Homo sapiens: one gene and its partners. The protein of the gene in region 1 purifies or fractionates together with the protein of each later gene. This does not show direct contact. Each region holds a gene or a part of one and is shown in the gene's direction. Other genes may lie near its edges.

The links.
Region 2: the proteins of RABGGTA (region 1) and DPCD purify together in Homo sapiens (affinity purification with mass spectrometry; 2 studies listed by BioGRID and IntAct, with this or other methods). This does not show direct contact.
Region 3: the proteins of RABGGTA (region 1) and CHML purify together in Homo sapiens (co-immunoprecipitation; 4 studies listed by BioGRID and IntAct, with this or other methods). This does not show direct contact.
Region 4: the proteins of RABGGTA (region 1) and PPP1R16A purify together in Homo sapiens (co-immunoprecipitation; 2 studies listed by BioGRID and IntAct, with this or other methods). This does not show direct contact.

The regions. Positions count from the first base shown.
Region 1 is NC_000014.9:24,268,280-24,276,283, reverse strand, and holds the start of RABGGTA (geranylgeranyl transferase type-2 subunit alpha), read left to right. Parts: upstream 1-4,686; 5' UTR 4,687-4,797; exon of another isoform or gene 4,798-5,114; 5' UTR 5,115-5,168; coding exon 5,169-5,171; intron 5,172-5,336; coding exon 5,337-5,447; intron 5,448-5,825; coding exon 5,826-5,950; intron 5,951-6,143; coding exon 6,144-6,331; intron 6,332-6,589; coding exon 6,590-6,793; intron 6,794-7,120; coding exon 7,121-7,204; intron 7,205-7,290; coding exon 7,291-7,373; intron 7,374-7,457; coding exon 7,458-7,559; intron 7,560-7,664; coding exon 7,665-7,770; intron 7,771-7,863; coding exon 7,864-7,915; intron 7,916-8,004. UniProt on the Homo sapiens protein: Catalyzes the transfer of a geranylgeranyl moiety from geranylgeranyl diphosphate to both cysteines of Rab proteins with the C-terminal sequence -XXCC, -XCXC and -CCXX, such as RAB1A, RAB3A, RAB5A and RAB7A.
Region 2 is NC_000010.11:101,590,848-101,598,443, forward strand, and holds part of DPCD (protein DPCD), read left to right. Parts: intron 1-3,810; coding exon 3,811-3,891; intron 3,892-5,745; coding exon of another isoform or gene 5,746-5,792; exon of another isoform or gene 5,793-7,167; intron 7,168-7,596. UniProt on the Homo sapiens protein: May play a role in the formation or function of ciliated cells.
Region 3 is NC_000001.11:241,630,007-241,637,602, reverse strand, and holds part of CHML (rab proteins geranylgeranyltransferase component A 2), read left to right. Parts: intron 1-1,408; exon of another isoform or gene 1,409-1,529; coding exon of another isoform or gene 1,530-1,570; 5' UTR 1,571-1,805; coding exon of another isoform or gene 1,806-1,836; coding exon 1,837-3,807; 3' UTR 3,808-7,596. UniProt on the Homo sapiens protein: Substrate-binding subunit (component A) of the Rab geranylgeranyltransferase (GGTase) complex. Binds unprenylated Rab proteins and presents the substrate peptide to the catalytic component B.
Region 4 is NC_000008.11:144,473,181-144,481,194, forward strand, and holds the start of PPP1R16A (protein phosphatase 1 regulatory subunit 16A), read left to right. Parts: upstream 1-4,801; 5' UTR 4,802-4,947; intron 4,948-5,170; exon of another isoform or gene 5,171-5,373; intron 5,374-5,405; exon of another isoform or gene 5,406-5,502; intron 5,503-8,014. Other genes in the region: kinesin-like protein KIFC2, read left to right, coding at 1-270; FOXH1 (forkhead box protein H1), read right to left, coding at 1,058-1,876, 1,977-2,081, 2,403-2,576. UniProt on the Homo sapiens protein: Inhibits protein phosphatase 1 activity toward phosphorylase, myosin light chain and myosin substrates.

The DNA.
Region 1 (8,004 bases):
TGCCTCAGCCTCCCATGTAGCTGGGACTACAGGCACGTACCACCACGCCCAGCTAATTTTTGTATTTTTAGTAGAGATGGCATTTCACTGTGTTGGACAGGCTGGTCTCCAACTCCTGACCTCAAGTGATCCGCCTGCCTCGGCCTCCCAAAGTGCTGGGACTACAGCACTACAGCATTACAGCTGGCCCGTGGCCAAAAAAAAATTTTTAAGTTAATTAAAATGAAAAAAAATGAAAAATTCAGTTCCTCAATTGCACTAGGCACATTTCAAGCGCTTAGCAGTCACATGGGGCTACTGTCAACCGTGTTAGATGACACAGATACCAAACACTTCCATTGTCACAGAAAGTTCTATCGGACAGTGCTACACGCCACTGTAAGCTCTGGAAGACAGAGACTTGTCTTTCTGGTCCACTACTGGATCCCTGGCACCCAACATGCTGTGAGGCCCAGCACTGATGCTGAACATCAAGAGACTGAATAAATGCACACACTACCACACACTGCACATGGCCCGGAGACAGCTCCATTACCTGTCTCGCACTTGCTCCCCCTGCCGTCAGACCATGGCTTCTAGCCAAGCTTTGACCCAGGGCCCTGGCCCAGGGCCCTGACCCAGGGCTCGTGGCCCCCTTTCCTCCCTCCAGACTCTCTGGTCTGTGACGGGCTCAGGGTCCTGGAGCCATTGTAAGTGACTATGTGTGTGTGCTTCTGTGTATGTATGTTGGGAGCAGGAGTAGAGAAAGAATTGGCAGGGGTGGAAAGACGCCAGGGTTCCAGGTCTCAAGAAACTCAGGTTCAGGCCTCTGGCAATGGTCACTCTCACCTATACAGCCGACTCAATTCTGAATCTCGAAGATGTGTGACTTTGGACAAGAAACTAACCTCTGCAAACCCACTGTATTCCCTGTTGCTTCATTGTAAAATATGGATAATACCTATTTCATATAGGTAGTGAGTGCAGTAAATAAGATGTCTGGGGCTCTGTTGATACTCAATTACTGTTTGTTTCTTTCTATACATAGAGGGCAGTAAAAATCTCTTCTTCAAACATCATTTAGATTGTGGCTTTCAGGGCACGGTGGCTCACGCCTATAATCCCAGCACTTTGGGAGGCCGAGGCAGGCAGCTCACCTGAGGTCGGGAGTTCAAGACCAGCCTGACCAACAAGGAGAAACCCTGTCTCTACAAAAAATACAAAATTAGCTGGGCATGGTGGTGCATGCCTGTAATCCCAGCTACTCGGGAGACTGAGGCAGGAGAATCGCTTGAACCCGGGAGGCACAAGTTGCAGTGAGCCAAGATGGTGCCATTGCATCATTCCAGCCTGGGCAACAAAAGCAAAATTTGTCTCAAAAAAAAAAAAAAAAAAAAAGCCGGACATGGTGGCTCACGCCTGTAATCCTAGCACTTTGGGAGGCCGAGGCAGGCAGATCACGAGGTCAGGAGATCGAGACCATCCTGGCTAACAAGGTGAAACCCCGTCTCTACTAAAAATACAAAAAATTAGCTGGGCAGGGTGGCAGGCGCCTGTAGTCCCAGCTACTCAGGAGGCTGAGGCAGGAGAATGGCATGAACCTGGGAGGCAGAGCTGGCAGTGAGCAGACACCGCACCACTACTCCAGCGTGGGTGACAGAACGAGACTCCGTCTCAAAAAAAAAAAAAAAAGATTGTGGCTCTCAGACACCTGCATGGTTCCCACTTATCCCACATAGGAGGCCAAATATAACTCCTGACAACTCCTTTTGCCTTCAAGCAAGAGGCTTATTATCATCAGTTCCACTGCTCTTATCTCCAAAGGCACCTGGCTCAGCCTCTCTGTGCCAGCCAGCTAAGTTAGTTTGGCTTTCTCTCCCCCACCTTCACGTCATATTACATACCTGAAATACCCTTCCTGCCCGCTCTTTCCAAAACTCAAGCCCTGCCTTCTCTGATGCAGATTTTTTCATGAGACTCACTTCCTCTCTTAAGCCTGCTTGACTCAACCTTCCCAGTTTCAAGATTGCTAATCACAATGTGATTAGTGACTATGATGCAAGGCTGTACCTGGCAAATCTGCACTTGAGGGCATCTGTGTTCCCAAGTATCTGGTTGCGCCTATGAGTGTGCACAGAGCAGGAAGCTAGAGAAGGAGGTGACCACCAACAAAAGAAGGCTGGTGGTGAGGTGGGAGGGCTGGACCAGACTAGACACAGGTCCCATTTGGCCACTTATTACATGGGTGGCCCTCAACAAGTTACTTAATCTTTCTGAGCCTCAGCTTCCTATTACTATACTGAGCCCTTACTTAGTACAGACACTATTCTAAGCACTTTACATAGATTCTTTTATTTCAGCTTAACTTCAACAGATTAACTTCAACTGCAGCAGCTAGATAATATTTTTCCTATGTTACTGTTGAAGAAATTCAGACATAGAGGAAACGCAATACAGAAGTTAAGTAACTTGCCCCAGGTCACACTGGGACAAGCAAGTGGCAAAGCTAGGATTTGTAGCCAGGCAGTCTGGCTCCAGGATCCATGTTCTTAATCACTCTGCTTACTGCCTCCTACCTGTAATTCTGTGTGTGTGCACATCCCTCCTATGTATGCAAAACTCCCATCACAGTGGCTGGCACAAAGAGAACCAATAAATGGCTTAACTCTTTCCTCACTGGGACTACAAATACACAGGGATAGGAAAAATGTCTCTTTTCGAGAATTTGTTATAGGATCTAGGAAAGGACAAGTATATAATGGACACTTTACATACATTTCCAGGGGCTGAGAGAGGTGTGAAGGATATATAAAGATTTAAAGCACTGGCGGGGCATGGTGGCTCACACCTGTAATCCCAGCACTCTGGGAGGCCAAGGTGGGCAGATCACCTGAAGTCAGGAGTTTGAGACCAGCCTGGCCAACATGGTGAAACCCCGTCTCTTCTAAAACTACAAAAATCAGTCGGGTGTGGTGGTGCATGCCTGTAGTCCCAGCTACTCCAGAGGCTGAGGCAGGAGAATCGCTTGAACCCAGGAGGCAGAGGTTGCAGTAAGCAGAGATCGTGCCACTGCACTCCTGCCTGGGCAACAGAGTGAGACCCTGTCTCAAAAAAAAAAAAAAAAAAAATTTAAAGCACTACCTTCTTACCCAGGTGTGAGTTATAAACACACACATGCCACATGGACACACTATTCGCAAAGACATCACACACGTGTACGTGTGGTACACACACACTCACTAGCCACCCTGAACCTCATAAAGGCTCCACCAGAAAACCTTCTTTGCAGTAGGCACAGGGAAAAAAATCACAGTCTTTAAAAGTACATATGAAGGTCTATCAAATCAGACTGGGGCATTTTAGAGAACTTCCTCGAGGTGCCACTTGAGTTACATTTTTTTTTCTTTGTACTGTGGAGTTCAAAAAGTTAAATCTTAAAGATAAACAGGAATTACTGTGGCAAAGGAGGAGTGTGGAGAAAGGAGAGTCAAGAGGGAACAGGCTAACATATTTAGGAAACTGCAAGTATTTCTGTAGGCTGTCATGAAGAGTTTTTGGCAGGGTCAGGCAGGATATACAGCCAGAGAGTAGGCAGAGCCCAAATGCCAATAGGTCTGATGTGCTGAGCTGAGAGATTACAATTCTATCCTGAAAAGGAGCCACTCAGCACTTTTAGGCACAGATATGACGTCAAATCTGCATTTTAGAAAAATGGATTCAGTAGCACAGAGGATGGACTGATAACAAGGGATGAGGTGGAGAACACTGAAAAGACTTTCAACAATCTGGAGAAGAAATTCGGAGTTTGAACTCCTAGTGGCAGTGGGAAGAGAAAGAGTATTTAAGCGAGTTTAAGAAGTGAGGAGGAAATAGTGCCATTCACTACAATAGAAAACATAAAGGCCAATGTTTAGACAGGATGGATGAAAGATAATTTATACCTTTTGGCTTTTGGAGTTTGAGGTGTCTCTGGGACACCAGGTGATATCCAACAGGTGTTTGAATATGTATGTGCATGTATATTATTTATTGTTATTTAAGCTTGCAAGACATCTGGGCTGGAGATATAAATTTGGGTGTCATCAATTTACAGGTAGTAATTAAAACAATGAGTGTGGATGAACTCACCCAGAGAAAGTGTAATGCCAGATTTGTGGGCCAAAACAGCTCTGAGGAGCTCCAACTCGAAGCAGTTGAAGGCTTACATTTAAACATTCTCCCAGGAACAGTGGGTGAAGTGAAAAAGGGGTGAGGAAAGGGCCCTGGAGATCACCAACATTTAGGGGTGGAGGTGAACAGATGAGAAGAGAGAGGCAGAGGTGCAGGAGGAGAAGCCAGAATGGGGGTGTCAAGTATAAAGAAATGGGTAGCGTCAAATGCTTCAGAGGTTAGAGAAAATGACAGGAAACTCCCCCTGTTAGATTTGACATCTAGAAGGCTGTCGGTGTGGCCAGGGTGAGGTCAGTGGAGTAGTGAAGGTGCGGGTTTCCGGCTGTTGGAGAAACCTCTTCCACTAACTACATTGCACTCTGAGTTACCAACTGGCATGGTCCTCCCCCCATTTCACACGCACGCTACAGTCGCCCGTGCGCACTCGTACACACCAGGTGGCTAACAGGTACGAGGCGTTTCCGGACAGCGAGCGCAGAGCCCCCGCGCACGCGCCTCCGAGCCGGCCTCTTCCGCCGCAAGTCCCTCCCCAAGCCTGCAGAGTGCGCTGCGTTTCGATGAGCCGGGACGTGGCGCCGCTCTAGCCAGCGCCTGGGCTCTGTGGCGGGCGCCGCAGCTCCGCGTCCCCCGCGCCTCCTCCCAGCGCAGGTGGGTCCGCCCGCGGGGGGCGGGGGTGCCCGGGAGCCGTGGGACGGGCGGGTAGCGGCAACCTTTGGGGAGCAGAGTGGTCCCCAACGCCCAGGTGCCCCGGCTCGCGCTCTGGCCCGGGCGAATCGGGCTATAGGAAGGGCCACACGGATGGAAGTCCTAGTCCGGGTGCTCACCTCTTGTGGAACGTGCAAAGCCTGTCCCAGGACCTCTTTACACTCTGGGGGTCTCTGCCCAGGCACGCTTGCTGCTTCCGGACACAGCTGTGGGCGGAGCTAGTAGGGGCGGGGCTACGTGATTGACACTTCTCTCCTCAGACTTCAAGGGCTACCACTGGACCCTTCCCCTGTCTTGAACCCTGAGCCGGCACCATGGTGAGAACCCTGAGCCCAGCCCTTCACCTCCGCAGGCCCGCGCCCTCACCCCCAGTGGCAGTGCCATGGTTGCCCCGTATGAACCTAGGGCTCCACAGTGTGGGGTTTTTGCAGGTCAGCTTCTGCAAGGCAACCTGCACTCTTCCAACCCGTTCATCCTTGTAGCACGGACGCCTGAAGGTGAAGACGTCAGAAGAGCAGGCGGAGGCCAAAAGGCTAGAGCGAGAGCAGAAGCTGAAGCTATACCAGTCAGCCACCCAGGCCGTATTCCAGAAGGTGGGGCCCTCAGAGGTAGCCCCGACCCCAAGTAGCTCCCTTAGTATAGTGCAGAGGCCAAGAGCTGGTCCCTAGAGTCAGACTGCCTAGATCCAATTCTGGGTTATCTCACTTATAACTGTATGACTTTGGGCAAGTTGCTGAATCTCTTTGGGCCTCAGTTTGCTCATCTGTAAAATGGGGCTAATAATTGCACCTACTGCATAAGGCTGTTGTGAAGATTAAATGAGAGAATACCTGTAAGGCCATAAAGCATGGTTCATAGTACCTGTTGTATAATGTGGGATTCACAGAATATTGGATGGTTTTAAGTTTACGTTATTTAGTCCTGTAGTGGGAAAATTATATGATCTCTAACCCTGCCACCTATCTTCTTAGCGCCAGGCTGGTGAGCTGGATGAGTCCGTGCTGGAACTGACAAGCCAGATTCTGGGAGCCAACCCTGATTTTGCCACCCTCTGGAACTGCCGACGAGAGGTGCTCCAGCAGCTGGAGACTCAGAAGTGCGTAGGGATTCAGGATCTCAGAAGACTGCCCTGGCCCTGCGCCTGCACTGCCTGGGTCTAGGGGTGGAGGAGAAATGGGGCAGCCAGTGGCATAGATGGAGGATAGTAGGGGGCTGGGTGCAGAAAGTGAGGGGTGAGCTGAGGTTGACTGTAGGAGAGCCCTGACCCCCCCCTTCCCTTCTGGGTACAGGTCTCCTGAAGAGTTGGCTGCTCTGGTGAAGGCAGAACTGGGCTTCCTGGAGAGCTGCCTGCGGGTGAACCCCAAGTCTTATGGTACCTGGCACCACCGATGCTGGCTGCTAGGCCGCCTGCCTGAGCCCAACTGGACCCGAGAGCTGGAGCTCTGTGCCCGTTTCCTGGAGGTGGATGAGCGGAACTGTACGTGGCTGCAGATTCTGTCCCCACAGCCCTCACCTGCCCACATTCTGGTACTGGGGCCTCAGTAAGGCCCAGAATGGGGAGGGATATCCAGGATGGGTCCACTGAGCTGGTGCTGAAAGGGATGTTGGAGCCAAATGCATCCTCCGTGGAGTGCACTGAGGTGTTTCTAGGGGTTCCTGAGGGGACTCTAGGGGTCCCAGCCAGGTAGCTCCTCTTGCCCTGCCTCTAAGATATGCTGTCACCTCTCCCCTCCAGTTCACTGCTGGGACTATCGGCGGTTTGTGGCCACACAGGCAGCCGTGCCCCCTGCAGAAGAGCTAGCCTTCACTGACAGCCTCATCACCCGAAACTTCTCCAACTACTCTTCCTGGCATTACCGCTCCTGTCTCTTGCCCCAGCTGCACCCCCAGCCGGATTCTGGACCACAGGGGCGCCTCCCTGAGGATGTGCTGCTCAAAGGTAACCAGGGTCAGGGATGCTCAGGAGGACTCTGCAGTGCCACCCTTCCAGCCCCCATGCCTGACCCTGTTCCTGAACCTGTCACTCAGGTTTATTGAGCACCTACTTCATGCGTGGCTCCAGGGGTGCTTAAGAATCAGTCCCTGGCTGAAGGAAGCTTAAGTGTCTGATGGGGAAGATAAAACTGACATACGTAGCCCCTGTGCAAGGACAGCATATAAGTGAGACTGGGGGCTGGAAGTACTCCAAGGAGAGGGTAGGGTGTTGGAGTGGCCAGGAGCTCACCAGTGTCCTGACCACAGCCCCATGCCTCCTGGAACCCCACAGAGCTGGAGCTGGTGCAGAATGCCTTCTTCACTGACCCCAATGACCAGAGTGCCTGGTTTTATCACCGTTGGCTCCTAGGCCGAGGTGAGCAATGAGGAAAGGGGCTGGGTGTTTAGCGCTTAATAGGAATGGGAGAGGGTTTAAAGAAATCTGACACTGTCTCCCCGCAGCTGACCCCCAGGATGCACTGCGCTGCCTGCATGTGAGCCGGGACGAGGCCTGTCTGACTGTCTCCTTCTCTCGGCCCCTCTTAGTGAGTCCTGCAGCTTTTGTCAAGAGCACTGTGGGACTGTGGGCCTGGTGCTGATGGGGCTGAAGTCTTTGTCCTTTGTGCCAGGTGGGCTCCAGGATGGAGATCTTGCTGCTCATGGTTGATGATTCTCCCCTGATTGTGGAGTGGAGGACCCCAGATGGCAGGAACCGGCCCAGCCATGTCTGGGTATCCCAGGATTGGTGGGGCAGAAGTTGGGGTCTGGGGCAGGGCTGGGTGGGACAGTCAAAAAAGTGGTTAGGCTGGGGCATTTCCTTGACCCAGTACTCCCAGCTCTGTGACCTGCCTGCTGCCTCCCTCAACGACCAGTTGCCCCAACATACATTTCGCGTCATTTGGACAGCAGGCGATGTCCAGAAAGAATGCGTGCTTTTAAAAGGTGATGGAACCTGCAGCCTCCACCCCTTGCAGCAGCCCCCATCACTCTTTTCCTCTCAAGGGTGCACCCTCCAACCACCTACTCTTTCCCCAGGCCGCCAGGAGGGCTGGTGCCGGGACTCCACGACAGACGAGCAGCTATTCAGGTGGTGATAGGGAAGCACAAAACAAGGAGAGGGGCTCTGGACTCTGGGCATCAGGCAGCCAGGGCAGGAGGCTGGGGCCTCAAGGAGCT
Region 2 (7,596 bases), on another chromosome or scaffold:
GGAACCTCGTCTAAGTGGAATCATACAATATTTGTCTTTCTGTAACTGGTGTATTTCACTTAGTGTAACGCTTCAAGGTTCATCCATGTTGCCACAGTTGGATACTTCCAGCTGTGCCATTAATTCACCACAGGATCTCTAGTTGGCCCCTTTACTTGTTTGGATCCTTTCCAGCTGTAATATCGTTCATAAAGTAAACCTCTAAATGTTCCCTGTGTTTTTAGGGGAGATAGAGCAAGGACCAAGGGCTGTGCCTGGAAGAGGTGGGCACAGAGGTATGGATATTGTAGCATGTGTCAAAATTTTGCTCCTTTTTAAGGCTGAGTGATATCCATTGTATGTCTACACTGCATTCTGTTTATTTATTCATCTGTTGATGGACACCTGGGTTGCTTCCACCTTTTGGGTATTGTGGATAATGCTGCTCTGAACATGAGTATACAAATATCCACTTGAGTCCCTGCTTTCACTGTTTTTGGTCACAGAAGTTTTTAAACAAATATTTTATCAGCCAGGATTTTGTTAAGTTCTTTTGTTAGTAGCATCACAAAATGATATTGTTAAGATTCCACCCTATCCCCAGACTGAAAAACAACTCAGTATTGCATATGTGGTTAAGCCTTGTCAAACCTGCAGATTTACCCCTGGGTGTGTAGGAGGGGTGTGGGGAGTAGGGGGGAGGTTACTCCCTTCCACCAAGAATCATGGCTATTGATATCTTGGGCTGGATAATGAGACTCCATTTTACTTTTGTTTTTTTAAGAAATAATTACATTCATTGTGGAAATATGAAAAATAAAGAAGTCAAATATAATATTACCACCCAGATAATCATAATTTACTTTTTTTTTTGAGACAAGTTTCACTCTTGTTGCCCAAACTGGAGTGCAATGGCGCAATCTCGGCGCACTGCAACCTTTGCCTGCTGGGTTCAAGCGATTCTCCTATCTCAGTCTCCTGAGTAGCTGGGATTATAGGCGCCCGCCACCAAGCCCGGCTAATTTTTTTTTTAATTTTTAGTAGAGACAGGGTTTCACCATGTTAACCAGGCTGGTCTCAAACTCCAGACCTTAGGTGATCCGCCTGCATCGGCTTCCCAAAGGGCTGAGATTACAGGCGTGAGCCGCCTCGCCCAGCCCATAATTTATATTTTTATACATAAACTTCTATATTATTTCATGCATACACTCACAGTTATTTTTCTTTTACAAAAATATACTAATATACTTAATAATTTATATATACATTTATTTCTAGAATAAATATACTATTAAAACAAAGTATAGATAAGTATCGAATAATCATTGGGTAAGGGAAGATGCTCTGAGTGCAACTTCTAAGGCAGTAACCACAAAGAAAGAAAATATATAGTTGGCTTTATAAAAACTAAACACCTGTGTTGGGTACCTGTAATCCCAGCTACTGGGGAAACTGAGGCAGGAAGCTCACTTGAGGCCAGAAGTTTGAGGCTGTAGTGTGCTATAATCATGCCTGTGAATAGCCACTGCACTCCAGCCTAGGGAACATAGCCAGACACTCTTAAAAAACAAAAACACTTGTTTGGGAAAACCCACTTTAAACAAAGTTAAGGGCCAGGCGTGGTGGCTCACACCTGTATTCTCAACACTTTGAGAGGCCAAGGCAGGAGGATCACTTGAGCTCAGGAGTTTGAGATCAGTCTGGGTAACATAGTAAGACCCCATCTCTACAAAGAAATTTAAAAATTAGCTGGGCATGGTGGTGTGCAACCATGGTCCCAGCTACTCGGGAGTCTGAGGTGGAGGATCACTTGAGCCCAGGAGGCAGAGGTTGCAGTGAGCCGAGATCACACCACTGCACTCCAGCCTTGGCAACAGAGCAAGACACTCTAAAAAAAAGCCTCAGTTGGCCGGGCGTGGTGGCTCATGCCTGTAATCCCAGCCCTTTGGGAGGCTGAGATGGGCAGATCACGAGCTCAGGAGATTGAAACCATCCTAGCCAAAATGGTGAAGCCCTGTGTCTACTAAAAATACAAAAATTAGCTGGGTGTGGTAGCATTCACCTGTAGTCCCAGCTACTCAGGAGGCTGAGGCAGGAGAATTGCTTAAACCCGGGAGGCAGAGGTTGCAGTGAGCCGAGATCACACCACTGCACTCCAGCCTGGCGACAGAGCGAGACTCTGTCAAAAAAAAAAACCCTCACTTTTCCTCATCTATGAAATACAGGTAATGAAAACACATAGGATTATTGTGAGAATTAAATTTGATAAGACATGTGAAATGCCTGGATTTAGTAAGCGCTGCATCCTGCCTGGACTCAAGGCTGGATGCCAAGGGGAGAAGATGGTCAGGCAAGACCCCCTCAGCTCCTCCCAGGCAGTACCTTGGATCCCGCTCCTGACAGGAGAGCCCTTTCTAATGCCTGTGAGCCATCCAAATGATTAAGGGTGGTATTACCTAGGGCTCTGCTAGAGGCCCTGCAAATTTAGGGGTGAGTTTATGCAGAATACAGATTAGGAATGGCTCAAGGGAACTGTATCCCAGAGAAGTGAATTGGACAGGAAAAAGGCACCTTGGGGCTCTTATTCATCAAGCATACATAGGGTACTTGTCTACTGGATGTTAGTGCTCTGTTACTAGTTTTACTGAGGAGTCTGCCTGTATCTACTTCCCTACCTATAAAAAGAAAGGGGAAATTACATAGCCACTCTTAAGCAAATGCTCCAGGGGTAGAGGAATTGGGCTAGGAGACTCCCTTAGTTTCTTCTTCTTCTTTTTTTTTAGACAGAGTCTCACTCTGTTGCCCAGGCTGGAGTGCAGTGGCACAATCTCAGCTCACTGAAACCTCCGCCTCCCGGGTTCAAGCAATTCTCCTGCCTCAGACTCCTGAGTAGCTGGGACTACAGGCACCTACCACCATGCCCAGCTAACTTTTTTGTATTTTTAGTAGAGATGGGGTTTCACCATGTTGGCCAGGCTGGTCTTGAACTCCTGGCCTCCCTTAGTTTCTTCTGTTCTTTCAACGGATAGTGCATCAGTGTTTATTCATCCTTTCAATCAGTATTTAGTTGAGCTCCTAGTATATGCCAGGAGCCACACTTGGTCTTTAGGAAACCATAGCATGGGGATAAAACCCCTCCTATCTAGTAGAAGAGATAGGCAGTAATCAAAGAGTCACATAAAAAGATGTAAAATCATAACCAAATTAAGTGCCATGAAGAAAATACATGGGGACTTAACATTGTGTTACTGTGTGATAGGAATGGCCTGGAGATATGCAGAAGAAGGCAGGGCACTGGCATGGCTAGAGGGAGTGCTTGGTCAGGAAACCCAATTCAATGTCCTGAACACATAGAGAGATAAATACGATGTCATTCATGGGAAGACAAATGCTTTTAAAAGTATCATGGTATGTAGTAAATGCTCCACTATGGATACGAGTAAAACATTAGGGAGGCACACATGAGGATGTGATTAATCCTACCAAAGTGGCTGGAGGTGATAGTGGAGGAAGACTTCCCAGTGGAAGTGACATTTGAGCTGGATTTTGAAGGGCAAAGAAGAGTTCCACAGATAGGAAAAAATATGGAGCTGTTGCTGGTAGAGGAAACAGCAGGGCAAAGATGTTCAAGGAAAGCTTCAGAAAGGGAGAGAGTCTCAGGACACGTTTTAAAGTAATGGTGGGTGGTGGTTGGCAAGGAGTTTGGGGAGGTCCTGGCTGGGTTCCTCAGTACTCCCAAGGCTGGCACTGTTTCCCAGGTAGGCCCCTTGATCTGCAAGGGACAGGGCAAGGGGAGACTTTGAGGTAAGGCATTCTCTGTTTTGTGCATAGGGAGAAGGAAGGTTCACTATTTATTCCCAGACGGCAAGGAAATGGCTGAAGAATATGACGAGAAGACGAGTGAACTACTTGGTAAGTGACAGAGGCTCCCAGTGGGCCTTTAGTAATACTTGGGGCTGACATAAGCACAATGAACACTCCTAGCCTTAGGCTTGAGGTAGGAGCCCAGATCAAATGTAGAGGCTGGGAGAGACGGAAGCCCTCGAGACAACAACGTTCCTGAGCATAATCTGGGCACCAAAAGTGGAATGCGAGTCCTTTTGACCAGTAAAATTCATCCCCACCCCTCACCCCAGACAAATGAGAGAGGGAGTAATTCTAAGATGTAGAGAAACAGTTGGGAAAAAACTTTACAGAGGAGGTGGTATTGGAAGTGAGCCTTGTAGGTTTAGGAGGGATAAGGGCAGACTTTCACAATTTGTTTTTCCTTGTTTTTTTGTTTGTTTGTTTTGTTTTCTAAAGCCACACCAGGAGCAAGCGAGTATCAGAGGCAGAGCTTCTGAGCTTGCCTCAAAGGCAACACTATAAAATATGGTCCTTATTTTGAAGAACATCTCAGTCAAAGAGGGTCAAAACAGTGATTTTGCAGCGTGGTCACTTTCATTCCTGCAGCGCCTTTCCTCTAAGAACAGGCTCATGGGTAGGGGCTCCAGCTCAGATTTCTGGGAATTATTTGATTTGTCCACTCTGTTCCCAGGTGTGCACATCAGCATTAACCAGCTTCCCAGAGCTAGGTGGCTGGCTCTTTGACCCAGGGCCCAAGGCTGTCAGCAGTGGGAGTTGGTCTCTTTATTAAGTTCCATCTGAAATGCTAAGACCAATGATGGAATCACAGGCTGGTTTATTTTCTTGTCATTATTCTTGGCTTTAATTTCTTCCTGGGCCTGATCGACAGGTAGTATTGGTGAGGGAATTTCTTTTTCCTTTTTTCTGACAGCTCATAAATGTCTAGAACCGACAACATGGATTACACGGGCTTGCATTCCCTCAGTCTCCAGTCTTAAAATGTTTGTCCTGCGCATGTTCAGTCGCACAGTGAAGTGTTGATCCCTCCTTATTATGAGCTGCTTGGGCTCCAGTCCCAGTTGGTTTAGTCTGGTGCTATTAAAAATCTTGATGTGTTTAGCATATGACACTGATTCGGTGGAAACCAATACAGTAGTAATATCCTCACAATGCATTGTAATTTATAGTGCTCCCAGGGGATGACAGCCTTGGAATGCCTAACAGGGGAGAACTTATGAAAGCAGAGGTCACGTGGACTAGCCACCACCATAACCAGGCCAGAGAATAGCCGCAGCTCCTCACTCCCAGCCCCCCGTGCCACTTCTCTACTCCTCCACACAGAGCAAATAAAACAGCTATAGCTGCTGCGGCTGTAAAAACAAACAAATAAAACCCAGGCCTCTTTGTTGTGCTTGGATATGAAACTGAAATTAAAAACAAGTCCAGGTTTCTTCATTTGTAGCACCATGTGCCCTGATATCCCTTATTAACCTGTCACTTCTCCTAGTGGCAGGTGGGGAATAGACCATGGCTTCCAAACTCCTCTTTCTTAAAAGCAGAAATGGAGAAGACTGTTCACAGGAGAACACTGTTTGGCTAAAGTTGACCTAATAATGATATTAATAGCGTGACTCTTACTGGGCACCATGCTAAGTGCTCTACGTGAATTACCTCATTTACTCGTCCTCGTTAAAGCCCTATGAGGTAGATACTCTTGTCTCCATTTTACATTTGGAAAAAATGGAAGCTCAAAGAGGTTAAGCACCTTGTTGAGAATTATGTAGCTAGTTTCTAAGCCAGGATTTAAGCCTAGTTCTGTCCAATTAAGAGCCCATGCTTTAGTCCTCAACAACATAGTGCTGGGAGTTGAGAACACTTAAATCCAACTTTCTTTTCTTCTTACTGTTTTTCTTTCCCCAGAAAGGCCTGAGTGTGGACTGATGGGCAGACAGGAGGACCTCACTTGAGCCACTGGGCCCAGCTCTAGAACAGCAGATCTTTTTCTTACTCTTCTTCCTATCCACCACTGCTGCCCTGGCAAAATACTCTCCATTATTAATTTTTAAGTATAAATAATCCCAGGGGTTGAGCTGGCTTTTGCTTGTGCATTCTATGAAGTAAAGTAGGGACATGGTTTTTGTGGCAATAAATAGGAATAGTTTCCATTTTTCTAGCTAAGTATACAAATTTGATAATTAGCCAAACCAGTTTTCTGTTAGAAAAATTCAAAGTAATTTACAGAGGAAGAATTGCCAATAGGTGTGCGTCAGTCTGGGACAGAGTTCCTCCCGTCGGTGTTAATAAGCATGTTAGTGTCCTGTTTTTTTCCTACCCTCTCAGTGCTATTCATTCCCACCCCCCACAATGATTGCTGCATGTATTCATAGAGGAAAAAACTGAAGGCCCCACAACAATGATCGGAACATCAAACCAGCCTGAGAAGAACACAGCATGTCCAAGGGGGCTGAGGCTGAAGGGCAGGCCATCCCCCAGCGATTACATTCGGATTACCGACTTAATCTGCTTTGGTATTTGACCGCCAGCCTAACCACCCCAGGCTGCATTTGGAGGATATTGAGCACTTTCATCCCCAAGCACTTCACTGGCTTTATAAATGACCCACTCGATTCCCTTCGGCCTCCTCTGGGATGGGACATGGCAGCTGTTTAATTGCCACATAGCAATGTTGCAGTGTTTTAAGGCAGAAAAGAAGAATCCTGCATCCAGTTGAAGCTGCAGGGAACATTTAGGGAAGGGGAATGTAATTATCCACATTGGAAGTGGGCCAGGGTTTGGAGCTTTGGGGAAAGAGGCCTTTAGGACTTCTACTTTCCAGCCCACCTGAAAGATGGGGCCTCCTTTCAGCAGTCTGGGACATCAGCCTGCTTCCTGCTGATTTAGGAAAAAGCCCCCAGGCGCCACCTCCTTTATATATTCCCCATCAGACTCTTCACCGGGGTGGAAAGTCTCTTTTCCAAGGTCTGGCTGGGGCTCAGCTGGGAAGATATGACAGCGTCCCGGGAAGCTGCCTCACACCAGTTTGGGTTTAACATATAATCAAATCAGAGTGACAGCAGATGGAAACAGTCTTCTGTTGCCGCAGGAGCCGTCCTTGAGTTCAGAAACAAAGACGGGGGCAAGAAAGACAAGACAAAGTGTGCATTTGTACATGTGTGTTCACACCCATGCACTTGTGCATAGGAAAAATAAGAAGGACTTCCCCAAAATCTTTTATTGGGTCTTATCTCTAGAGGGAATGGGAAAGGAGACTTTCTTCTACATTCTAACAAAGAATTTAATTCTCAAGGTGTTTAAACAAAAAATAAAGGTGAAGCAGCCAGAGGTGTCAAGTTCCCTGAGTGGTTTTTAAGGTCAGAAGTAAGGAAATCAGCAGCTGACTTTCTTCCTTCTTTGAGTACTTCTTGGGAAGTTTTCTGTGTAAAACTCAAAATTTTTTGGAGTAAAAGTGCACAGAAAACCCTGGGGTGGTTGTCGTCCCTCCAGGCCACCTTGGTGCATTATTATGCATTAGGACACCCATTTTAGCAAGGCCCATGACTTACAGGGGCACCTCACTTATCCAGCCCTAGGTCGTGAGGTAGTCCTCATAATTTACTTTTTCAGATAATCAAAGCTTACCCTTTAAAGGCCAAATATAAAAAATAAATTGAGCTACTTAAAAAAAAACAGAAACCTTTCAAAATATTACATGTGCTTATTGAACACTTTCAGAATAAAGTTTTATTAATAATTCAAATTCTGGATTTGGAG
Region 3 (7,596 bases), on another chromosome or scaffold:
CTCCTACTCCTACCCTGAGCCCTGTCTTTCTAAGCCAAGAAGCAGCATGTACTATGGTTACACCTCTTCAGATACCATCATAGATTCAGTCTCCATCTTCACACCCTGCTGGAAGAAGCAGAATAAGTAATTCAGACATACTTATATTTATACTTGAGTGGGCCAGGCAACTGCTGCATTCTGTACTTAGTTCCTGGCTTCTTAGGGAATGCCAAAAATGAGTGGAATCCTTGATATTTTTGAGACAGAGGCTTTGACTAGACAGGACTGTTAGGATTGCCATTTTAGTTAAACTAAAGGTGTGTGCCCTATGCAATTTAATCTAAGTTCCAATTGAATGGCTTGTTTTTCCAGTATCCAGGATTATTAGTCATCTTGGGCTAGACAGGTACAGCTTGTACTGATTTATATTTCAGTAGGTTTAACAGTAGTGAAAACCAGAGCTCAAAACTGTGCAATGATGAATATTAGAAAGTTTAGCAGTATTGTTGCTTTAGCCTAAAGACTTTCAGGTGAGTATGCTCTTCAGCACCTTGGCCTTTCTACCTCTGGCCACACAGGGCATCACACAGATGTCTTCCGCACATGGAATGTAACCAGCATTATGCTCAAAGTTAACAGGAGAACCTTATTATTTTTTTTTTTTTAAACTTCCCCTTCAAAAATAAGAACAAACAGTGTTAGTCTTGGCAGAGGATGTTTAGATAGACCTTTTGCTTGGGATGCAGAGATTCAGGGTTGCAGAGACAGTGGCGAAATGCAAACATCACTGTATTCAAATGTTAGAAGTAGGTATTATTTATGTTAAGATATTTTAATATGAAATCAGAAGTTTTCCTTTTTTACTTACACTTACACACTTTTTTCCTTTATTACTTATATGCATGTGTACATTCATATAATATTTTTAATACATTTTCCTCCTCAGGGCTATTATGAGCCTAAATATTTTTAAATGGCCAGTTGTTTTACTGAATTAATCCTTTTGTAATAATCTGACTAGTAATTGAGTAGAAATAGTCTCATGTTGCTACCATGAGATCCTAAGGGTGGTTGTGGCATGGAAAGGTCTTATATTCAGCTGTTCTGGAATCACACATAGACTGTAATGGCCACAGAAATATTTTGAATCATGGCAGTATGCACATAGTTTATAATCTGTTTCTATAAACAGTGGAGCCATGCGTTCCTTTTAGTCTAAGCTCACAGCTGTGTATAGATTTATTCACATGATAGTTTTCTTAAAAGCTAAAGTTAGAGAATTGTATTATGTTATTTCTTCTTTATTTTTGTGGAACATTATGTTCATTCTCTATTACTATGTTGCCTGATTCTTGGGAGGGCTGTTATATCTCTATTGTCCATTCTCAAGAAATTAGAAAATATGTGAGAAAGCATTTAAGACATGCTTTAGTAGAGGTTTATGTCCAAATAAGATGTCACACTCCAATGGATTGTCATTGTTGCATGAAATTATTTTTCTCTTATATTGTTTACAATGTATTCTTTCTTGAATTTTCTTCTTTCAGAGAAGAGTTCCAGTCACAAATGCATATATGATGCATTTTGACATTTACTGCTAAGATGAAATGCAGAAATGAAACCACACATCCATTTTAGTATTCTCAGATGTGATTAGATGTACTTGCTCATGTTTTTATGCTACTGACTTATAAGAAAAAAAATATTTTAAAAGGGTAACCGTTAAACAGCTAGGACCTGCAACTTCAGTGCTTCTGGGATAACTGGAACATCAGAAGGACAGATTTTATTACAGCATAATCACACCTCATTTCTTTCATCAGCAGTTGTCACCAGACGCTGTTACTTCCTAAAATGGCGGACAATCTTCCCACAGAGTTTGATGTGGTTATAATAGGGACAGGTTTGCCCGAATCCATCCTTGCAGCTGCATGTTCAAGAAGTGGTCAGAGGGTTCTGCATATTGATTCAAGAAGCTACTATGGAGGAAACTGGGCTAGTTTCAGCTTTTCAGGATTGCTATCCTGGTTGAAGGAGTATCAGCAAAACAATGACATTGGGGAAGAAAGTACTGTTGTATGGCAGGACCTGATCCATGAAACAGAAGAAGCCATCACTCTTCGCAAGAAGGATGAAACTATTCAACACACAGAAGCTTTTTGCTACGCCAGTCAGGATATGGAGGACAACGTTGAAGAGATTGGTGCTCTGCAGAAAAATCCTTCTTTGGGGGTGTCTAATACCTTCACTGAAGTTCTGGATTCTGCATTACCTGAAGAAAGCCAGTTATCGTATTTTAATAGCGACGAAATGCCTGCAAAACACACTCAGAAAAGTGATACAGAGATTTCACTAGAAGTAACTGATGTAGAGGAATCAGTGGAGAAGGAAAAGTATTGTGGAGATAAAACTTGTATGCACACAGTTTCAGATAAAGATGGAGATAAAGATGAAAGCAAATCTACAGTAGAAGATAAGGCCGATGAACCAATTAGAAATAGGATTACTTACTCTCAAATAGTTAAAGAAGGCAGGAGGTTTAATATTGATTTGGTGTCAAAACTGCTGTATTCTCAAGGATTGCTAATTGATCTTTTAATCAAATCAGATGTTAGTCGTTATGTAGAATTTAAAAATGTCACTAGGATTCTTGCATTTCGGGAAGGAAAGGTAGAACAAGTTCCTTGTTCCAGAGCAGATGTCTTTAATAGCAAGGAACTCACCATGGTTGAAAAGAGGATGCTAATGAAATTTCTCACATTTTGTTTAGAGTATGAACAACATCCTGATGAATACCAAGCTTTCAGGCAGTGTTCATTTTCAGAATACTTAAAAACTAAAAAACTAACTCCCAACCTTCAACATTTTGTACTGCACTCAATTGCAATGACATCAGAATCATCTTGCACTACAATAGATGGTCTTAACGCAACTAAAAACTTCCTTCAGTGTCTCGGACGGTTTGGCAACACCCCCTTTTTATTTCCCTTGTATGGCCAAGGAGAAATTCCCCAGGGTTTCTGTAGGATGTGTGCAGTTTTTGGTGGAATCTATTGTCTTCGTCATAAAGTACAATGCTTTGTAGTCGACAAAGAATCTGGACGATGTAAAGCAATTATAGATCACTTTGGTCAAAGAATAAATGCTAAATATTTTATTGTGGAAGACAGTTACCTTTCTGAGGAAACATGCTCAAATGTGCAGTATAAGCAGATCTCTAGGGCAGTACTCATTACAGATCAGTCTATACTAAAGACAGATTTAGATCAGCAGACTTCCATTCTGATAGTTCCTCCAGCAGAGCCAGGAGCTTGTGCTGTACGGGTCACAGAATTATGTTCTTCAACCATGACATGCATGAAGGACACCTATCTGGTACATTTGACATGTTCATCTTCTAAAACAGCAAGAGAAGACTTAGAATCAGTGGTGAAGAAATTATTCACTCCGTATACTGAAACAGAAATAAACGAGGAAGAACTTACAAAGCCAAGACTCTTGTGGGCTCTTTATTTTAATATGAGAGATTCCTCGGGAATCAGCAGAAGCTCGTATAATGGCTTGCCTTCCAATGTTTATGTCTGCTCTGGGCCTGACTGTGGCCTGGGAAATGAGCATGCTGTCAAGCAAGCTGAAACACTTTTCCAGGAGATCTTTCCAACTGAAGAATTCTGCCCTCCACCTCCAAATCCAGAAGACATTATCTTTGATGGTGATGATAAGCAGCCAGAGGCTCCTGGAACCAATAATGTAGTAATGGCCAAACTAGAATCCTCTGAGGAAAGCAAAAACCTAGAAAGCCCAGAGAAGCACCTTCAAAATTAGAAAAGAGCAATCTCGAAATGCTGTTTTGGACCTCCTTCATGGCATCAGAATTTTCTCATTTAAAGGACAGTTTCCCATATGAGTAATTAGAAGTGGTTATATATGATGAATGCTATGCAGATGTTGTCTTTAACTCTCAGACATTCAGCATTGAATATCTTTGTTAACCTATCAATGAGTGATTTATTGATTATTGAACATTTTGTTTAGAATGGGCTATATGACCCAGAATCTTAAAACAGAGTTAGCTTTATTTTAGTATTGGGTATATATGTAAGGGTTCCATATTAGCAACTCAGCTTAAAGGTAATGTATTTGCTAATGATCTTCAGATTTTATCTTTGTCTACAGAACAATTAGTAATACCCAAGTAATATTTTAATTACTTTTGCAGCTGTTACAGTTGCTGCGGCCTGTTCGAATAGTGAAACATACACAAATGGTAAATTATGTGGATCTTTTGCATATAATATAAATGTATAGACATGGTGGTAGGAATAGCAACTAATACAAATGCCAATATGATAATAAAATACATTTGTCTATAATCGTTTAAAGATTAGCTTTGCATGATCCTTTATGCACTGTGAAGGTCTGAAGTTTATAATACTCACTTGACCCTTGTAACTGATGAGGCAATGATGCCACCACAGTATTCTAATTTACAAAAAGAATTGGAGTTCAATTAGTGGTTGTAAAGCTCATTTTGGGGAGGTTGATTGCAAAGGAAATTTGAAAGATAAGATTTATTCTTATTTAATACTTCAGAAAATTTCTGCAGAGCCCTGCCCTGGCACTTAAAATAGCTTCCAATAAGTAACTTAGACCAAAAGGAAAAATGAAGTGCCCCAGGAGAAGATACTTCAGAAGGGCTGTTCTGAAATTCCTAAGGAGGAATTCTTAGGAATTCCTAAGGAGAAACAGAGTGAGGCCTTTTTAACCTGAGATTACAGATACTTATAAAACCCTCTATAAATAGATTACCCAAGGTTTTTCAGTGAGAATGAAACATACCACCTTGTTGGCTCTACCACTTTAATTAATATCACTATAACATAACTGATAGGAATGAATCAAAGGAGGATTTACCATGCCCTTTCGGTTGTGTCCCACTTAACAAATTGTGAAGTAACAATTTTCTGTAATCTCTCTTGCCTCTTAGCTGTTATCCAGAGTATAGAAACTTTTTTTCTCCCAGAGCCACCCAACGTCATAAAACTGGTAGTACTCTAATGGTGAAAACCTGTGGAGCTGTCAGAAGACATGAACTTGCTTTTCCTCTAGTCCAGTTTCCATTCTTCAGTCAGAGTATGATGATCCCTGTGACAGTTTTTGCTCTGAAATAGTATTTATCATGTGTTTGGTACCTAGTATTATGCTTTCTCATGACAGTTTCTCAACAATCCTGTGAGGCAAATTCGCATGTACCCTCTGTATTAGTGTGTTCTCATGCTGTTGATAAAGACACACCTGAGATGGTAATTTGTAAAGAAAAAGGTTTAATGGACTCACAGTTCCATGTGGCTGGGGAGGCCTCACAATCATGGTGGAAGGTGAAAGGCACGTCTTACATGGCGGTGGACAAGAGAGAATGAGAACTAAGTGAAAAGGGAAACCCTTTTAAAACCATCAGATATCGTGAGACTTATTTACTACCATGAGAACAGTATGGGGGAAACAACTCCATGATTCAGTTATCTCCCACCAGGTTCCTCCCACAACACGTGGGAATTATAGGAGCTACAATTCAAGATGAGATTTGAGTGGGAACACAGCCAAACCATATCACCTTCAAAGAAGAAATAAGAGAATTATTAGTAATTTGCTCAGAATCTGGTATGTGGAAGAGCCAACATGGGGACCCAGCCTTTTGTGATTCTAAAACCTTTGATCTTTCTACTAACATTCACTGTTAGAGAGTGTAGGCGCTGCAGGAGAAAGAGAAAGTGCCCACGAAAATTAGTCTAGCATTGCCGGGGGTAAAAAGCACACACTGGTCCTGCAGCTTATTGAATCAGAGAAATGTGAAGATAAGATGAACTAAACAAACATATTTTAGAGCATGGATCTCGAAGCAGAATTTGGCTAAATTTTAACAAAATGTTCTTCAGTAACACATCTCATGATCTGAAGATTGTGTTACAAAAAATATTATCAGGCCAAAATTTGTTCGGAATACACTAATTTTTGCTCCTCTATATGTGAGGAAAATGAGACTAGACAGATTTAAGTAATTGACAACTTACTTAAAGTAGCAAAGTCATGGATTGTATTGACTTTTAAAAATATAGTAAAAGTCATATTTAAACTTTATCCTAAAGTTTAAATCTAACAGAACAACTGAAATACTTGAAATAGACCTATAAAATAGTAATTAAAATGAGAAATACATAAGATGATAAATAAAATGAAGGTGAAGGTATTCCAGATCTACCGAAAAGATTTTCAGTATCACAGATTATTCATAAGAAATTGAGAAAAGGAACAATCAGAAGTTGCAAAAGATGGTATAGCCGAATATAATGGAAATAGGAAAAATTAGTCGAAAATAAAGGTTGATTTAGAAATGAAGAAAATGAATATATTTCTTAATACAAAATAAGTGGGAAATGAGAAGTTATACCAATAAAAAGCATTTAAAAATTTAGGGGATATTGTAACCCAGTATAATTTTCTGACAGGTTGGACTTTGACCCTAATGGACTTACTGGTGAACTTTTTCAAATGTTTAAATAATGTCTATCCATGTATCATGAAGGACAGTATGCTTCAAATTGTCTTTTGAGGCAGACATGTTCTCAGTACTAAAAGACATTTTTAGAAGGATTTTATTCTCAACAGATGCAAAATGCAAAATAAAATATTGGCAAACAATACAGCAACAAATAATTTACTATCACTCAGGATTATAAGGCTGGTGTTAAGCAGAACAGCCATTAAATCAGCATCAAAAGAACAAATAGTAAAATCCAAAGTATTAATTACAGATAACTTTTCAAAAATTCATCATTCACCCTTGATTTAATTATTTCTCTGGCAATGATTTAATAGACTTCTCGGAGTCTGTTAAGTACTTAAACCAAGAACTACCATTATTCCTACTGGGAAAACATAAACATTTCTCAAGTGGAAAGTAAACAGTGTTGGCACTATTTTTATATATGGTTAAAGAGACCTGTCATTGCAATAAAAGCCAGCATTCACAAAATGAGGAAGATAAGGAAAGTAGCATAAATATTTTCTATTAACATGGCTTTACAACTGCTAAAACTTATAGTATAAAAATGTACTAACAAAGACTAATTCAAGAAGTTGCAGGATACACAATTTTTAAAAATCTCATTTCTACATCTTAGCAGTGACAAACTGCAATTTAAAAAGTGTGTTTGGTTATTAATATATATGAGACTTTTAAAGAAAGTTATATAACTACATAGAGATAAATTAAGAAAGATGCCTAAATAGAAGCAAGTTTAAAGAGCTATATTTTTAAACATGAACAAACTCCCATGGGAGCCATGCCAGTGTAGTGGAAAAGTAGTACATGGGGAGATGGGGAGTTTTTTTGAAAACCAGAATTACAGTTCTCATTTCACTACTTACCAGTTGTATACTCTTGGGAAAGTCACTCCTAGTATCTATTTCACCATCTACAGAAGAGAAATACTTCACAGAATTATTGTGGGGATTAAGTTAGATAATGTGTTTTAAAATATAAAGCTACATCCAAAGAAATGCCAATATGTGACATTAGTATGAAATTTACTACAGTTCCATTTAACATTCCAA
Region 4 (8,014 bases), on another chromosome or scaffold:
TCGCCGACCGAGTGGGTCAAGTGGAGCTGGGGCCAGCCCGGCGCCGCAGGGTCCCGCGCTCCTCCGGGACGCCTTCTTCCCTCAGCACCGACACTCCGCTCACCGGGACCCCCTGCACCCCTACGCCGTCCCCTGGCAGTCCTCCATGCCCCAGTCCCGACAACGGCTCGGGCTCGGCTCTCGCGCCCGCAGAGGGCCTGCCCCTCTAGTCCTGGGTCGCGGCCCTGCCCATGGGGTCTCAGGCCAGGTCTCTGCTGGCAGAGGCGGTAGTAAAGTCCCTGTACCCCGTCTCCCAGGGCACAAGCTCCCTAGCCTCTTTGGATCCATTGCCCCTGAGCTCCCAGAGTCACCCCTCCACCTCCGCAGCCAGTGAAGTGTGTTGTGCCTGCTGAAGTGATCACCCCCCGCCCCCAGCCCTGCATCAGGCCACAGGTCTTGGCTTTCTCCTTATCACCATTTGCTGTTATCACGGCACACAGCAGGGAATCCCAGGCCCCCCCGCCAAGTGGTTACCCAAGTCACCACTCCTGACCCAAAAATCAGGCATGGCATTAAAACGTTGCAAATTCCTTTACTGTTATCCCCCCCACCACCAGGACCATGTAGGGTGCAGTCTTTACTCCCTAACCCGTTTCCCGAAAAAGGTGCTACCTCCTTTCCAGACAGATGAGAGAGGGCAGGACTTCAGGCTGGATCCACCACTGGGCTCTCCCTCCCCCAGCCTGGAGCACGGGAGGGGAGGTGACGGCTGGTGACTGATGGATGGGTAGTGGGCTGAGAAGAGGGGACTAGGAAGGGCTATTCCAGGCTCAGCCCTGCTCCTGCAGCTTTGCCGCTGAGTGTAGGAAAAACAGGCATGACAGACCAGGGTGAGGGTTGTGCCCAGCTGGGCCACGGCCATGCGTGGGGTGGCCCAATAAACACCGTGGACTCCCAGCAAGGCTGCTGCCTGGTGTTTCGAGGCTGCTGTGGTCGCAGACAGCCGCCTCGCCTTGGCTCCCTGTCAACAAGGTGGGGGTGGGAGCGGGAGGGAGGAGTGGCCCCTGTCTTAAGAGCCTCACAGGCTGCACCAGGAGAGCAGCCAGCCTGGGCCAGGGGCCGCCAGGTCCCGAGGGTGGCTGACCCAAACGTCGTAGATGCTTTTGTTGGGTGGCACCCCTTGGAAGAGGGCGTCTAGATCGCAGAGCAGCCCTGGGGGCCCTCGGGTTTCAGGGGCCACCCCCCAGTAGGCAGGGCTGGTTGACGGACACTGGGGACAGGAGGTGGGTGGTGGTGCCAAGGGCATTACCACATTGGGAGTGTAGATAGGCAAGTAGGAGGTGGGCAGCTGCCCCCAGAGGGAGGCCCTGTGTCCCCCGCTGGACCGTCCCCCAGGAACTGCGGTGCCCTGCAGTAAGTGGAGAGGCCAGGCCCTAGGCTCTGGGGAGAGGGTTGAGGGCCCGATGGCTCCCCCCTGCACAGTCTCCCCCTCCACTCTCGTGGGGCCAGGAAGGGGGCAGAGGGGCCACAGAGGCCTCTCAGAAGAGGGAAGGGGTGGGGTGGGCACCGCCTCCTCCCCACTGTTCCCTGTGCCTGCAGGAACTGGGCTGCTCTGTGGAGCTAGCCCCGGCCAGGGTGCCCCCTCCCCGGACCCTCCTAGCAGGGACTTGATGCTGAAGCCCTCACTGGGTGGTGGCGGGGGACTGGGCGGCCGGTATGGCCGGCCGTGCAGCACGTAGGGGCCCAGGTCCTTGGCGAAGGCTCCACGCGCACCTCCGTTCTGCCAGCGCCGGCACAGGGCGGTGTTCTGCAGCCGGAGCGCCTCAGCTGGGATCAGGCTCACGTCGACCGCCCAGAAGTTGCCCTTGGCCTGGGGCTTTGCAGGGTCCTTGGGCACCTGGGTGTGGGGGTCAGACATGGGTGGGGCTGCCCAACCTTGGATGCTCAGGACTTCCGCGCGCGCTCCGCCCCCGGGCTCCGACCCTGGCCTGCCCCACCTTGCGGAAGCATCGGTTGGAGGAAAGGTTGTGGCGAATGGAGTCTTTCCAGCCCTCGTAGTCTTCCCTGAAGAAGGGGAACACGGCCTGGACCTGACGGATGATCTGAAACCGCCAGGCGGCCGGCCGGCGCCGTGAGCCCAGACGGGGAGGGGGTAGCGCCCTACCCCTCCCCCACTACCGGGCTCAGGGGCGCGCGGTGCCGGCCCCTGCTGTCCCCGAAGAAGGACATTTCTGCGCGGAAGCGCGGCAGAGAGGGCAAGGGGCTCCCGGAGAAGGGTCGTGCCTTGAGGCCCTCAGCTCTCAGGACTGGTCCCACTGGCATACCTGGGTGGGCTAGGAAGGGGTGGGGGTCAGGGCTTGAACCTGGAAGTGGGTGGGGAACGAGTCTGGGGAAAGAGAGAGTGGGGGCCGGGGCCCGCTCACCTGGGCCAGCTTCAGTCTGCGGGAGGGAGCGGCCTGAATCACCAAGGCGATCATGGCCAAGTAGGTGTAGGGGGGCTTGTCATGTCGCAGGTACCTCTTCTTCCTCCTCTTAGGGGGCTGGGAGGGCGACTCTGCCTCTGGGGGCCCCAGGCGGGAGCCGCTGCAGGGCCCCATGCGGGACGGTAGACAGCGTGGGCAGGGGCCTGGCCGGGTGGAGGGTGCAGGGCGGTGGGGCAGTGTAGAAGGCAGGGCCGGGACCTGAGGCCGGGCTGGGGCAGGCGGGCTGGGGCCTTTATCATTCGGATGGAAGGGGGAGGGGAGGGAAGGGAGGAAGAGGCTGTGGGGGAGGGGAGCATGCCGAGGGCTTCCACAATTAGCAGGTTTTGGTTAATCTGGAAGGGAGGGGCAGAGAGCATTCTAGTGGGGGCTTCTCCTGAGGCCTCAGTCTCCACCCCTGAGTTGCCTTTGGGTGGCCAGGCCCGGCTTCAAAGGGGCTGCGATGACCCATGGCTACTTTATCCCGTCTTCCCTGGTCAGGTTTCAGGACCCCATTTAACAAATGGGGGAGTATTTAGCCCATGCCAAGCTCCCAAGGCGTGGGGCGCTCCTGGAGTTCAAGATCTAGCAGCTGCTAGTAGGCCCTGAACTATGGGGGCTGGATATCCACCCAGGACATGATCAGGTGGAGCTTCCTGGAGGAGAAGGCCATGAAGCCCGCACCCTAGGAACAAGAGGGGGACACATTGACTCAACTGATTTCCTGGGAGTTGCTTCAGGAGCCCAGGTGGACCGCTCACCTCCTCCTCCCTAGCCATCTCTGCTCCTCCACCCAAGCAAGGCTGGTATTGTGTATCCTGCCCCAAAGCCCAGGTTCTCCTCCCTCACAAGGGGCAAGTTTGCCCAAGAGGATAGCAGCTCTGGGAATTAGCAGCGGTGGTTGGTGCTGGCACCAGGCCAAGGGCCCCCAGACACACGGGGGCCCAGGGATATGCTTTTGCCCTTCACTCTGAGAATTCAGCTTTTCTTGTGCAGCCTCCACCATGATAACCTCAAAGGGCTGAAAATCTGCAGCATACGGTGGGGTCCAGCACACCCTGAGGTGTGGAGGGGAGGGACAGGCAGCAAGTGTCCAGGAGGAGGAGGCCTGGGCCGCAAGGGGCCTTGTATGTGGGGTACCACACTGCTCCTGCCCCCCACACCCCCGGTCGGGTGGTGCCCCTTTTCCTTCTATCTCTGACTCTCCCCTCAGACGCCACGTGGTTTCCCTCAGGACTCCTGCCACCACCTCTCTGCTGTGTTCCCTAGGTTATGGCTGCACAATCCTGTGCCTCATGAGGCTAATACTTGTGGCCACTTCACCCCATTCGGTCAGCAAGGCGTCGTTCTTTCCTACAAGTGTTTGTTGTTGTTGTTGTTTTGAGACAAGGTCTCACTCTGTTGCCCAGGCTGGAGTGCAGTGGTGCGATCTGGGCCCCGTGCAGCCTCCACCTCCCCCGCTAGGGCGATCCTCCCGACTCAGCGTCCCGGGACTACAGGCGTGCGCCACAGAGCCCAGCTAATTTCTTAATTTTTGGTAGGGACCGGGCCTGCCTATGTTGCTCAGGTTGGTCTCCCGGGCTCAAGTGACCCACTGGCCTCGGCCTCCTCCCAAAGTGCTGGGATCACAGACGTGAGCCACCGGGCCGGGCCTTTCCCATAATTTTTTTTTTTTTTTTGAGACGGAGTCTCACTCTGCCGCCCAGGCTGGAGTGCAGTGGCGTGATCTCGGCTCACTGCAAGCTCCGCTTCCCGGGTTCATGCCATTCTCCTGCCTCAGCCTCCCGAGTAGCTGGGACTACAGGCGCCCACCACCACGCCCGGCTAATTTTTTTGTATTTTTAGTGGAGACGGGGTTTCATCAGGTTAGCTAGGATGGTCTCGATTTCCTGACCTCGTGATCTGCCCGCCTCGGCCTCCCAAAGTGCTGGGATTACAGGCGTGAGACACCGCGCCCGGTCTCCCGTAAGTTTTAAGGCACCCCCCTCTCCACTGGCGCTTCCTTGGTGGGGCGCTGGAGGCTCCCCAAGTTCTGACCGCTCTTCTCCGACCGCACTGTCCTGGGCCCGAAACCACCCCCAAAGCTGCCACCCATTCCGCTGGCGCCCGTCCCGTTGCCCGCGATGACTCGGTTTTGTCCAGCATAAATCAATGACCACCGTCCCGGGAGCCTTGGAGCACTTTGAGCCATTCCCGTCCCACCCACGCCCCAAGGAGGTCCCAGCCGCGGAGGACTCGCCCGGCCGCCCGCAGCTGTCCGCGTTGGCCCCCACCCCCGACCGTCCCTCCCCAGGCCCCGCCCCCGACATTTCCTCCTCCCAGGCTCCGCCCCCGGCTCCCACGGGGCACCGCGGCTTCCGGCTATGGGTACCGCGGGCCGGAAGTGTAGCGTTGCCATGGCGAGGGCCGGGTGCGGGGCCCGCCCCCGCAGCGCCTCAGGGAGCGCGGGGCCCACTGACCCGCGGAAGCCAGCGGACCCACTTGTGCGGCGGTCGGCGCGGGGCGCGAGGTGAGGCGCGGACTCCCGGGTCCTGCGGCGGGAGCGGAGCGAGGGAGAGGGGCCCCGGCCAGGGAGAGCAGTGGCGGGCCCGGGAAGGAGGGGCACTGGGTCGACACCGAGAGAGGAGGCCGGGCCGGGGAAGGATGAGGCAGAGGAGAGGGAGGAGGCCGGGAAGGGCGGGAGGAGGAGGAGACCGAAGGGAGAGAGGAGGCTGGCGACGGAGGAGGCCGGGGAGGGGCCCTCGGGAGACGCGGCTGCCGGCACGCGGGCGCCCAGGGCACAGGTCCCGCCGGGCCGCCTTGGGCGTTGCTGGCTGAGGCCCAGGGCAGCAGGTGCCAACGGTCAGGAAAGGCAGGGAGCCGAAGGCTGCCGGTGGGCGCTTCGCGTTTTGTTCCAAGGCGAAGGTGTGTGGATTCTCCGCAGCCCGTCGGTCAGGTAGACAGCTCCGGAATTGTCTTCATTTTCAGATGAGGAAATCGAGGCCGCAGAGAAGGGACTTACCCAAACTTAAGCTTTGTGTGGGCCTTGGAGCTAGGCTGAAGGAGAAAGTGGAGTCTCACTGGGGCAAGTTCCTTCAACTTTCAGGGATTCAAATGACCTCACTTGTAGTGCGGGGCGTCCGGACCACCCCTCAGGAATTGGGATCAGGGCAAGAATTACTAACTAAGCAAGCACCCCGCCTGGGAGGGAGCGTCCAGGACTGGTGTGGGCCCCTGTCTGTACCAGAGCGGAGGCCCGGGGCACGGTGGGATTAATTTCCATGGGTGCAGAGAGGGGAGCCGTGTACGGAGTCATTCTAGGCTTAGGGGAGACAGAGCAAAGTTAGCCTTCCCCAAACCTCTGTGCCTTCCTTTTCTTCCTGGATTCCTACCTGGGGGTGGAGGTGGAGGCGGGGGTACCGCTGCCTTTCTCAAAGTGTGTCTAGTCCAGCAGTGAGCCCTCCTGGGCGTCTTGGCGCCCCAGTTGCTTCCTGGACGTATTGGGGTTTCTCTGGGAGAAGGGTCTTGCCTGCAGTACCCTGGGCCTCCTGAAGAGGCCTCTGGTTGCGCTGCCTGATTCAGGGACCCAGAGCCACGACTCGCCGAGAGGAGCTCCGGCGGCGTGCGGCTGGGTTGCCTGAGGGGCTGGGGGCTGCCTGGTGGACTTGCACACATGCTGGCTCCATACCTGTCACTGTGGTGGACGCTCAGAGCTCTACAGGGCCAGCTGCCTGCCCCTGCCCCAAGTCCCCCGGGCTGGGGTTGGGATGGGGGTGGCTTTAGGGGGTCCTTCCCCCTCCTGGTGCTCGAGCTGGATTTCCTCCCTGTTGGCTGGGGCCATCCCTCGTGTCTCTGATTGGCCTGTCCTGGCCTCATCCCTCACCTGCTTGGGATGCACTTGGACTCTGCTTTGCCCCGAGGGTTGCCTGGGCTGGCACCTAGCAAGGGGGCTCCTCCTGTATGACTGTACTTTGGGGTCTGTGTTCTAGGGATTCTTGAACCTCTGGTCTGAATGAACAGCCGATTGATACAGCTCTCCACTGCATGCAGCTTAGGAACCTCAGTCTCAGGTGACCCCACAGACTACCAGCACCCCCAGCTCCACCCTTGCTCTTCCCCGAGCGTGTCCTAACCCTAGCACTTGTGCCACATCTATCCATTGGCCAAAATGAGAACTGGGTGGCAGTTCCAGGCCCTTCTTTCATGCCGAGGCTCTCCTGGCACTGGTGCACGCACACCTAAAGGGAGGCCTTTTCATCAGACTTGCTCAGCCAGGAGCTCAGAGCCTTCCATGTCACATCCTGTGCTGGGACCCCTGTGCCAGAGGCTCAGCAGCTGTTCACTTGTTCAGCTCACTGCACTTACTGAGTGCTGCCTATGAGTCAGGAACTGGCCAAGTTCTTAGGATGCAACAGGGAAACAAACAGTAACTGGCATGTCAAGAATTAAAACAAGGTGATGAGATAAGAGAATGACAAGGTAACCACAGAAGATCTCTGAGGAGGTTGCACTTAAGATGTGATCCGAGTCCCACAAAGGAGCATGCTGTCCTAAGATCCGGTGGAAGAACTTTCCAGACAGAAGGAGCAGCTGATGAAGGTGGCGGTGATGATGAAGCTGGTAGCACCAAATAAATGTGCTAGACCAGGGGTTGGCCAGCTTTTACTGTGAAGGGCTAGGCAGCAAACATTTTAGGCTTTGCTGACCATGTGGCTTTCTGTTTTTTTGTTTGTTTGAGATGGAGTCTCACTCTGTCGCCCAGACTGGAGTGCGGTTGCACAATCTCCACTCACTGCAACCTCTGCCTCCCGCGTTCAAATGATTTTCCTGCCTCAGCCTCCCCAGTAGCTGGGATTACAGGCACATGCTACCATGCCAGTTAATTTTTATATCTTTTTTTTTTTTTTTGAGACAGAGTCTTGCTCTGTAGCCAGGCTGCAGTGCAGTGGTGCAATCTCAGCTCACTGCAACCTCCGTCTCTCGAATTCAAGTGATTCTCCTGCCTCAGCCTCCCAAGTAGCTGGGACTACAGGCGCATGCCACCACGGCCAGTAATTTTTGTACTTTTAGTAGAGATGGGATTTCACCGTGTTGGCCAGAATGGTCTCGAACTCCTGACCTCATTATCCTCCTGCCTTGGCCTCCCGAAGTGCGGGGATTACAGGCGTGAGCCACTGTGCCCAGCCCATGCTTTGATTTTTTACATCAAACTTTATTGAGGTGTAACTTACAGTAAGATGCACCTATTTTAATGGGTTTTGTGTGATGGGTTTTGTTTAATGGGTTTTGTTTGATGGGTTTTTTTTTTTGACGGAGTCTCATGCTGTGTCGCCCAGGCTGGAGTGCAGTGGCACGATCTTGGCTCACTGCAAGCTCCGCCTCCTGGGTTCACACCATTCTCCTGCCTCAGCCTCCCAAGTAGCTGGGACTACAGGCGCCCACCACCACGCCCGGCTAATTTTTTGTATTTTTTTAGTAGAGTCGGGGTTTCACCATGTTAGCCAGGATGGTCTCGATCTCCTGACCTCGTGATCCGCCCGCCTCGGCCTCCCAAAGTGCTGGGATTACAGGCGTGACCACCGCGCCCGGCCTGTTTG